Linked DNA regions of Homo sapiens. The protein of the gene in region 1 purifies or fractionates together with the protein of each later gene. This does not show direct contact. Each region holds a gene or a part of one and is shown in the gene's direction. Other genes may lie near its edges.

The links.
Region 2: the proteins of PIGN (region 1) and RABL3 purify together in Homo sapiens (affinity purification with mass spectrometry; one large-scale study listed by BioGRID and IntAct). This does not show direct contact.
Region 3: the proteins of PIGN (region 1) and GOLIM4 purify together in Homo sapiens (affinity purification with mass spectrometry; one large-scale study listed by BioGRID and IntAct). This does not show direct contact.

What each region holds. Positions count from the first base shown.
Region 1 is NC_000018.10:62,180,442-62,184,098, reverse strand, and holds part of PIGN (GPI ethanolamine phosphate transferase 1), read left to right. Parts: intron 1-3,657.
Region 2 is NC_000003.12:120,707,979-120,711,635, reverse strand, and holds part of RABL3 (rab-like protein 3), read left to right. Parts: intron 1-1,726; coding exon 1,727-1,856; intron 1,857-3,657. UniProt on the Homo sapiens protein: Required for KRAS signaling regulation and modulation of cell proliferation. Regulator of KRAS prenylation, and probably prenylation of other small GTPases. Required for lymphocyte development and function. Not required for myeloid cell development.
Region 3 is NC_000003.12:168,022,864-168,026,520, reverse strand, and holds part of GOLIM4 (Golgi integral membrane protein 4), read left to right. Parts: intron 1-1,425; coding exon 1,426-1,593; intron 1,594-1,926; coding exon 1,927-1,995; intron 1,996-3,657. UniProt on the Homo sapiens protein: Plays a role in endosome to Golgi protein trafficking; mediates protein transport along the late endosome-bypass pathway from the early endosome to the Golgi.

The sequences.
Region 1 (3,657 bases):
AACTTGTATTGGTACATGCATATATCTTTTTAAAATTTTAATAGTTATGTGTTTGTTTTGGAGGTATTTCTTTTTCAATAAATCTGAATAAATTGTGATTTTCTTTAAAGAGAAGTATTAAGTAATATTTAGTATTAAGCAATTAAACTAATTAAAATAAGTAGTTAGTGAATGCTGATATTTTGTAATAACTGCAATTTTATTTACATTAATAGTAAATTACTTTATCATAAAAGGTTTAGTTTTTTTTTTTTTAAAGTATTTTCAGTCTTCACATCTTGTTCTGGAGGAACAAAAACAGAAGCAGGGCATCCTCTAGTGGCTGTAGTGCATATTGCATTTACCCTTGAAATGATAATTCTAAATAATTTATTCAGCAAACATTTGAGTCCTTACTAAGTGCATAAGACTCTGATGGGTGTTGGAGATGCCCCGTCCTGCTGTCATGGAATTGTGGTGAAGTGACAGAGACAGACATTAATTCAAATAGTCGTAGACAAAGCTATGTAATTACAAACTGAAGTAAAAGTTTTCGTTTCTGACTTCACCTGCATAGTCCCTGAGGAAGTGATGCTTGAAATGGAATGTTAGGAGAGAGTGGAAGATAGGTTGCAAGTACATTCTGCAGAGAGGAATTGAGCCTACAAAGGTCTTATAGCAGTGGGATACTTGAATAAAAGAAGGGGCCAGTGATGTGAGATGTTACAAAGTAAAGGGGAGTGCTATGAGACAGGTTTAGAAAAGAAGGCAGAGGCTAGTCTATAAAAGACCTTGTTAGTCACATTAAGGATTTTAGTCTAGATTAGTAGGTGAAAAGGCACTGGAGAGTTTTTTTTTTCCAGCTGTGACTTCATTTTTAAATTTATTTTTTAATATACGATTTTATGTATTCATTGTGTACATGATGTTCTTCAGTTTATATACATTGTGAAATGCTCAAATCTAGCTAAGTAACAAATGCATTACCTTACACATAGTTATCATTTTTGTGATGAGAAATTTGAACATCTACCCTTTTAGCAGTTTTCAAGAATACAATATATCATCATTAACTAGAGTCACCATGCTGTACAACAGAGCTCTTGAACTTATTCCTTCTATCTAACTCTAATATGAATGCTTTGATCAGTATCTCTACAATTGCCCCCCGCTGTGGAACTACCCCAGCCTCTGGTTACCACCATTCTGCTTCTAATTCAGTGGGGTCAACTTTCTTAAGTTCCACATAGGAGTGAAATCATGCAGTATTTGTGTTTCTGCACCTGGCTTATTTCACTTAGCATACCAGGCTTCAGGAACATCCGTGTTGTTGCAAACGTGTCTTTTGACTTTAAAGACAGTGAATGCTTCACAGAAGGCACTGGAGAGTTTTATACAAGGGGTAAGATGTTCAGATTTTCTTTTGAAAAAAGAAAAGCAAGTAATACTCTGGCTACATGGCAAGAAATGGATCAGAGAAGGGTTAGAGTATATAGGGGTGACCTATTCCTGCATTGCAGTAGTTCGCATAAGAGATGGTATACATCTTAAATTATAGAGGTGTCAATGGAGATTAAGACAAATGAACAGATTCAAGAAACACAAAGTGGACAATTGTTAGATTAAATAAAGGGGAAGAATAGGGTGTAAAGAACAATGCCTATTTCTCAGACTTACATACTTGGTGGGAAGGTGGTGCCACCTACTGAGATTGTGAACACTAAGGATTTAGTAGGTAGTAGACAAGGCTCATGGGAAATGTTATGAATTTGGTTTTAAACCTACTTAGTTGAGTGTCTTTGAAACGTCCATGTAGATTTATAAAGGTTCGAGTTACATATGTGGATTTGGAGCTATAATTTGTTGAGGCTTTTGCATATTAGGTAATAACTGAAGCCACAGATATGATGAAACTTGCCAGGATAGAAAGTATAGAGTGAGAAGAAAAGACAGCTGAGGACCAAGTTTTGAGTAACTCCAAAATTTAGTGATCAGATAGAGACTGTTCAACATTGGTCAGAGGTGTAGGTGAAAAATGAAAGCAGTAATGTTCATAGAAGCCAAGTGATAACAGCCTATTAAAAAGGAGAAGGCAGCCGGGCATGGTGGCTCATGCCTGTAATCCCACCACTTTGGGAGGATGAGGTAGGTGGATCACCTGAGGTCAGGAGTTTGAGACCAGCCTGGCCAACATGGTGAAACCCTGTCTCTACTAAAAATACAAAATTACCTGGGCATGATGCTGTGTGCCTGTAATCCCAGCTACTTGGGAGGCTGAGGCAGGAGAATTGCTTGAACCCGGGAGGTGGAGGTTGCAGTGAGCCGAGATCGCGCCACTGCACTCCAGCCTGGGCGATAGATAGGGCGAGACTCTGTCTAAAAAGAAATAAAAATAAAAAGGAGAAGGCGACTGGGCCCAGCAACTCACACCTGTAATCCCAGCACTTTAGGAGGCCGAGGTGAGTAGATGACTTGAGCCCAGGAGTTCAAGACCAGCCTGGGCAACATGGCAAGACCCCCGCTCTACAAAAAATACAAAAATTAGCTGAATGTGGTAAACATGCACCTGTGGTCCCCGCTACTTGGGAAGCTGAGGTGGGAGGATGACTTAGCCCAGGAAGCTTAGGTTGCTTAGAAAATGAAGACTAAAAAATAGCTATTAGATTTTGCACTGTTAACTGTCTTTACTTTCTTATGAAGTAATGACAATAAGGTTTAAGTTGTTTGAGATTTAGGTGGTCAGGAAAAAAAAGAGGTCACATTCAGCCTTTTCAAGAAGTTTGACTGTGTTGGGGAGAAAAGGGCAATAGATGTTTAAAATTTTTTTTATTAATACTGATATTTATGAGATGTATCCTTTTCAGAAATATGGTATTTCATTATGAATAAACAATTTATCTGTTCCCTATGGTTAGATATTGTTTCCAATTTTTTATTATTACAAATAGCAAAAGCCAAGATTTGAATGTAAAGGTTTAAAACCTTTTTCTTTCTGATGTGTAATTTTATCATAGTAAATTCTACACTAGTAGCAGTACTAATACTTGTGAGCTGGTTAAAAACATAAGCTGATGTCTACCTCACACCATATACAAATAATTATTTTTGTTTCAGAGGACACAAACCAACACAAATAAATTTTAAATAATGAAAGGTAAAAAACAAAAATCTAAAACTATTAGAAGAATATATGTGACATAAGAACCAGGAAAGTTTTCTTCTATAGTACAAGACACAAAAAACTCACACCAGAAAGGATAAATGTTTGACAAATTTTACTGTATTAAAGTTGAAAAATTTATTTTAACAAAAGGCCCTATGAACAACATTTATATATAAATGTGTATATCTAGCTATGTATAAACATACACACACTATATAAACATACACACACATATAATTGTAATGTACAAGTCAAATAAAAGGTCAATAACCCTAATCCTATCTGATCAAAGGATATGAATAGGCAGTTGAAAGGAAGAGAGACCCAATTGGCCAATAAAAACATGAAAAAATTTTCATACTCACTAGTAATCAGGCAAATACATATTCAAATAACAGGATGCCAATTTGGCCTGTTCAAATTGTCTTAAGGTAAATATGACAGTATCAAGCAATTAGGGGGATTTAGAGATATAGAAGCTTTCGTACATTGCTGGAGAGTATGTAAATTAGTAT
Region 2 (3,657 bases), on another chromosome or scaffold:
CTATAGAGCCTAGACATGAGAAAAAGAGAGTCTTTGGAGATAACTGTGAGTGAGAAAGTCATTGGAGGGTTTTGAGCAAAAGAGCGTATGATATAACTTGCATTTTTAAAGGATCACTCTAGCTACTGTATAGAAAACAAACAGGGAGGTTGGGGGATGCCTCTAGTAGGGAGATCAGTCAGAGACCATTATATCAATTCAGGCAAGGAGATAGAGACTTTGACCTGGGTGGTAATAGTGGAGATAGGGAGAAATGAACAGATTTTTGACATATTTTTTTAAAGTCAAAGAAGCAGAACTTGTTGGCAAATGCAATAATGCAATATGAAAGGAGTCAAGGATCAGTCTTAAGTTTTTGGCCCAAGTAACTGGAAGAATAAAATTGCCTTTTAGATGAAATTGCCACAAGAATGAGTATTGATAGAAAAGAAAAGAGACTGAAGAACTAAACCTTGAGACACATTAGCAATTAGAAATCAGAGAGATAAGAAGGACCCAAATGGAAGCTGAAAAGCACTAGCCAATGAGATAGGAAGAAAACTAGAAGAGTGTGATATCCCAGAAGCCAGGTGAAAAATGTTGCAAGACACGAGGTGGATCAAATGGTGGAGTAAAATGAAAACTGTTAATTGACCATTGGAGTTAACAATGTGGAGGTCATTGGTGACCTTGACAAGGAATAGTTCATTGGGGTCATTAGGGCATAAGTTCGATAGAAATGAGTTCAAAAGAGAATGTGAAGAAAAGGATTACCGCTAAGAATAGACAACTCTTTGGAGGACTTTTGCTGTGAAAAGGAAAAGGAAAGTGGCATGGTAGCTGGAAGAGGACTTGAGGTCAAGAGAAGGATTTTTTTTAGATGAGGAAAATTATGCCATGTTTGTATGCTGAGAATTGAATTGTGTGGTGAGGATTATCCAGCTGAGAAGGAAAATTTGATGGTATAAGGGAGAGACGGGAGAACTGGTAGAATTACATCTTTAAGCAAGAAAGTGGGGATGGGATCTCATGCACAGAAGGAGGATTTAGCCTTAGGGACATAGGCAGCCTAAGAAAACAGCAAGAAGGAAAGCAGATTATGTGGGCACAGATGGAGAAAGGCAGATAAATACAGGAAGAACAGGTTGTAGAAGCTCCTTTCTAATTGCTTCTGCACTAGGAAGCAAAGTTAGTTTTAACTGAGGATGGGGAAGAGATATTAGAAGTTTATAAAGAGGAAAAAGTATGAAATAGTTATCTGGAAGAGGAAAATGGTAAATTAACTGTGGAATTGATTGAAGGACAGCTCCAAAGGTACACTTAAATTTAGAAAGAATCCATTCATCTTGAATGCGTATTTTTCCGAGCTCCACATTCGGTTGCTGGGTTGTAGACATGAAAGAGGGTAAAAGGTGGATATAACCAAGAGTGGAATTTTGTCAGATGAATACAATGTGAGAGAGGGGCAAAGGAGTGACTGTATGATGGATCATGAAATTTATGCTTAGTTAGGAGGGAGGTGAGGCTTCGGAAGTGGAACAGAGAGCTGTGAAAGATGTTAAGATTAATTAACTATAAGGTCCTCTGGAGTAAAAATTATTAAAGTATTAAAGAGAGTAAGCTTAAAAGATAAGAGGTAGCGATCAGAAAGTCAGAGTAAGATGCTGAAATGCTTTAAACCGGAATAAGGGTACTTACTAGTTTGTTTAGTGGCTATATTAATTATTTTAATTGATTGATTTGTTAGGTTCATGATTACAAAGAAGGAACCCCAGAAGAGAAGACCTACTACATAGAATTATGGGATGTTGGAGGCTCTGTGGGCAGTGCCAGCAGCGTGAAAAGCACAAGAGCAGTATTCTACAACTCCGTAAATGGTAAAACATTTTTAAATTTCTATCTTATATTAATGGTCTAAGAGTATAGATCATCTGATATGTAATGCCATAGCATGCCAGACTCATCTTAATTTGAGAAAGATATAATGTACTCACAACCCTTGATTTAAATCTGCATAGTACATTCCAGTTTGCGTTTCTACATTGTAACCATCTAATTCAGAACATTAAACATTAAGTGTTTCTATTTATATTATTGTCATAAACTAAATATTGAGAAATAAAATCATATTTTTGGTACTTGACATAAAACATGGAACTTAAAATGTTGTCCTCTGGGGTTGCTCTGTCTCCAGTGAGTTGAGTAAGTACAGTAGGACCATAGGAGTCCCATAGTCTTAAGCCAGATAACACAGAGATAGAGGGATTTCTTTCATCTGCCCCTTAGAAAGAGCCCTAAGGCTCTTTCTCAGCTAGTTATAAAGAGCTGCTTAAGGGGGTCTTTATGGGTGCAGAAATTTTATCCAGTTATAGATATTCAAATACCTGGAGCAGACTTCCAGATGGAGCTGTGTAATATACGACATAATTTCCTTTCATAGAGTACCTACTCTGTGTCAAGAGACTAAACTGCTTATACCTGTGATTTGCCAATAGAGTTTCTTTCTTAGTCTTTTTAAAAATTCATTTTTAAAACCTGTTTTTACTGTGAAACATAATTTCAACTTCTGTTTGATTAATATACCAAAGGATTTGGCATTTCCCTCCTGGTAAATGCATAGCCATTAATAGACTTCATTTATGCTGTGCTTAGATCTCACTCAATATTAGGTAAGCATTGCATTTATTCAGTATGTTCATTCCTTATATTCCTCTTCTGATGTCTTCCCAGATCATGAGGTGTTGTAGACTCTACAAAAAGATGTAGAGAAGGTTCTTTTCATTGGATACATATTATAGAATACAGAATGAGATGTGTCAGTTCAGACCCATATCCTATTTAGCTCAGAATTCTATCTGAAAATGTCACAGTCTTAATAAAGAAACAAAGCATTCATAAATGAGACAAAAATAGTTATAAGATGACCTTGATATATGCCATCATCATGCAAAAAGGTATATACAATGGTATATATGAATAGAATGCATATAAATAAGAAAAACAACAATAAGACTAAGTATAGTGTGAGGTGACCTCTTAGAGAAGGAAGTGAAACCTAGTTTAGACTTATACTAGAGTGATCAACTTGTATCAGTAAAATTACTTGTCAAATTAAGATATCTATCTGATCTGGCACAGAGAAGTCTGAATATATAACACCTTTGATATTTAGGTATTTTTGAGACAGAGGTACAATAAAAATTATGAATAAATAATAGAGATAAATACCACTCAAATCCTAGAAGCTATGGAATTCTGAGTTGTAAACTTGTAAGTGCTGAAGAAGAAATCCATCTAATCTATATTTGTTTATCTTTTCTGTACCTACTATTCATTAGTGATTTGTCTCCTTTAATATTATTGAAAGAATTGCATATATCCTATGTTGATTTTGCAGATAAGACTGAAATATATTTCCATTTCTTAAAAGTAAAAAAAAAAAACTGCATTTATTGAAAAACCTATTTCTGTGTTCTTTCACCTTAGCTCTGGAACATTCTTCCTGGTAGAAGCACTCAAAGTTCTTTATTCCATCTACTATCCTTAGTTTCCTAAGAAACTGAACATAAGGATCACTCTATCCAAATGCACAGTCCATATTCTTAGCGATAACTTTCTTCCCTTAATACCCTACATTCTTCCCTCTCTAATAGCCTAGGCTAGTAATCCTTCAGAAGG
Region 3 (3,657 bases), on another chromosome or scaffold:
AACATGCTGGGAAACATTGGCCTTTGTACCATTCTTCCTTTTAATTAGAAATGGTTAATCCCACTTGTTCCTCTCTTTCTGTTTTATTTGAACGTAACAACTGTGCCTGCTAATTCATACCTGTTACGTGGTCGGAGTTGAGCTAGTCAATTTTATGAACGTTTGCAAAAGATATTTGGTACTTTTTTCTGAAAAGAATATGTTACATTTTTCCTGTAATTCCATACAAATTTTTGATAGTGCACTAAAGAAAATCCATATGACAAGAGATTGTGGAGTAATTAGAGTTTAGTGTGAAGGTGGTAATTTGGTAGTCTCTACGTTCCCAAGAATAGTGTCATTTGCACTGGAGTAACATTCATGGCCAGGGATGTGCAGATAATAGATCAGCTGAGATGGCAGTGAACTCTCAAACATGTTCAAGACTCCTAAGTGAATTGAAGTAGAATCTTGTCTGGAGAATACTGATAGAGACCAAATCCTACTCTGTGGCTTTACTGTCTCTTAGAAGCATTTACAGCTTAGTAAGTGTCCTATTGATGACCTGCGAGTGATTGGGGAAGCTCATGACAAGCATCACTGTTCCTCTCCATCTCAGGCTCTAAAATCTAAATCTTTATTAGGATGTGTATTATTTGGAAGGTGCTTTGGGAGCTTAAGTGGAAAATTGAAATAATTCTAAAGTTGATAATATGAAGGGCCTTTGTTGAGCACAGTAATTTGGGAGATGAGTTGGGAGGACATTTTTCATAATATATTGCCCTATTGGGCAGTTGGGTAGCTCAGCCCTTTTTAACTCCCATCCCTCGCCAGTTCAGCATCTCTCTGTTTCATGGGAATGATTGTTAATAAAGAAATTGGATCCATACTAGAAAATGACCATTTCCTTTTGAATTAGCCTTTTTCTTGTCTCCTTTTCGTATCCTTTTTATGGGTCCTTTCTGGTATGGGCCTTCTTTCCCATCAACAACTTTTCACCTGCTGACATGTTAAAAATTGCTTGCACAGGGAAGTTACTATAAAAATCAACATAGCAAAAAGAGTTAATTGCCCATCTAAATCCCCCACCTAAATTAGTATTTTTTTTGTCACTTGGTCCTCTGACTTTTATTAATTATTTTCTTGTTTATTCAGTTCTGTTCACATTACTTGTGTCAGTAGAGTTTTGAGAACTATTTTGAAATCACTTGCAGGAAAGAAGTGCTATTTGAACCTCATTCTGATTCATCAAGCCTCTGACAAGTAAAGCAGGAGTTTTCTCTTTTGACAGTGTGATGCTTGATTCTTGTGAGTCTTGGCAAGGATAGATCTGAACAATTGAGGGAAGGACAATTTCATTTTCTGCCAGTGGGCAGCCTTTTCAAATGAAATTAAACTTGATCCTCAGTTTTGAAGTGATAGTTGCTTTTTATTAAAATTTTACAGAGGGCAGCTGTAGAAGATATAAACCCAGCAGATGACCCTAATAATCAAGGTGAGGATGAATTTGAAGAAGCCGAGCAAGTGAGAGAAGAAAATTTGCCAGATGAAAATGAAGAGCAAAAACAAAGTAATCAAAAGCAAGAGAATACAGAAGTGGAGGAACATTTGGTGGTAAGCAGATGCCACGAGGAAGGGTGGATTTAACTGGGCTATTTTAAGAAACATCTGGTTTATGTAAAAGGTTAGTCATATTCCACATTGACGGAAGGTTTGCCACTTCGGTGGTTTTTAGGCCACTTTATGACATGATATGCCTGTACTCTGAGAGAGAGGGTAACGGACATCCTGGGCTTTGTATTGGGAATGATTACTCATCATTTCCTGGCCACAGACGCTTTGAAAGTGCCCTTTTCATGGTGGCATGCTTGTTCTTTGTCCCAGAGTACTGTGTAAAAGGCATCTCTGATGTACAGTAACATGAACCTGCCCTTTTGTTTCCAACAGATGGCAGGAAATCCAGACCAGCAGGAGGACAATGTTGATGAACAGTACCAGGAAGAGGCAGAAGAGGAGGTAGTAAGGATTGAATCCCAGAGACTGATCAGATTGGTCTGTCACACACACTAACCTTAAACAAACCTCAGCAGTATTGACTTTGACATGCCTTCCACAGAAATGTTCAGAAAAATTTAAGCAGGATAAGAAAGGGTGGTTTAAAGCAAAAATGGATCATGGCACTGGAGACATTTGGTTAGAAGATAACAAAAGCAGGGTAATAGAATCCATCTCTTTGGTTCTCACCTGAAATTTTGAATTAAGAAGGCATTTGGCTTTCCAGGAATGGTGGACTTAGATTTGTGCAATCTTTTGTAAGAATATTTTCTCCTCTCTCCCTCTGCACATTGAGGGAATCTGGACTGCCCCTGTAACTTTCTCTTCAGGCATCTCCCCAGTGCCTACCTCACAGGAATACCCCATAGTGTCTATCGGAATCCACTTAACACCCTCCAAACATTTTTGTAAATTTTACAGTCTCTCCTTCTGGCCTCTTCCTTCTTAAGAATTCAGTATCTTAATTAAATTTAACAATAAAAGAGGAGGAAAAAGATGTAAAGAGCTCAGCTGAATAAAATGCATTTGGATAGAGTTTCTTAATATTTTAGTTTGCTTTTCATTGTAAACTTCGGGCATCTTGTTGTTAATTAGATATAAGTAGCGTTTATTGTGGTGCTGCTTACGGTGTAGTTGATTATTGTGGTGCTGCATGTGGTGTAATTGGTGAATGCTGCTTGTTGTAGCCGTTTTATCACAGCATTCCGCTGCATAAACAACTGCAATATTTAAGAGTCTGATACAAATTAGGCCAAGACCCTGTATTTAGTCTCATTATGGACCAGTAAGTAGTTCCCAAATTAAAACCCTGGTTCAGAGCTGCTTCTCAGCCAGGTGTCTTGCAAATGTGTGGTTTTATCCCTATGGGGAACCCCATGGGAGGATGGACATATGGCAGACTGAACAGACACACCCCATCACTGGAGATCCTGTGCAGAAATCATGAGCTGTGCTCTCACACACACAGTTCCCTCGACTAGGTCTGCTTTCTTGTTCTTACTGATTTTGTAAGCTTTTCAGAGCTGATGATAAAATTTGTGCTTATACCAGGAAAACAGAAAAGGATGTTGCTCTTTAAGGTCACTGGCAACATTTCTAATAACATGCACTTTAACTGGCTTGATCTTTTTGTTCTTTGGTTTCTCATCCTAATCAAGACCCTTGGCTGTCTTGTCAGAAAGAGAGCAGCAGAGAAAATAGTGACCTTGAATATTAAGACATTGGGCAAGAAAAAGATATTCATCCAGGCTTCTCATATAACAGGATGTCTAGACTAATACCACTTTGTTTTATTATGTCCAATACTAGGAATCTTTGAGGGATTAAAAGAGAAAAGTTCACCTTGGCTTCTTTTTTAAAAATTCAGAAGATTAAACATAAAATTTTAACCAGTGTTTACTGATTCCTTTTCAATTTTATATTATGATCAGTTAAGGTACAGGAGAGAAATCCTGAGATCCAAGAGGAATCAAGAGTAGAAAGAGAAGAAAGAGGCAAGAGGAAAGGAGAAATGGTGCTAAGACAGAGGAGGTTGCCCTGGCTGAGTGCTGCCTAAACTCAGCAACTGCTCCTCATCCCACCAGTCATCCCCTTCAGATCTGCTGGACTGACAGGACTCTTCCT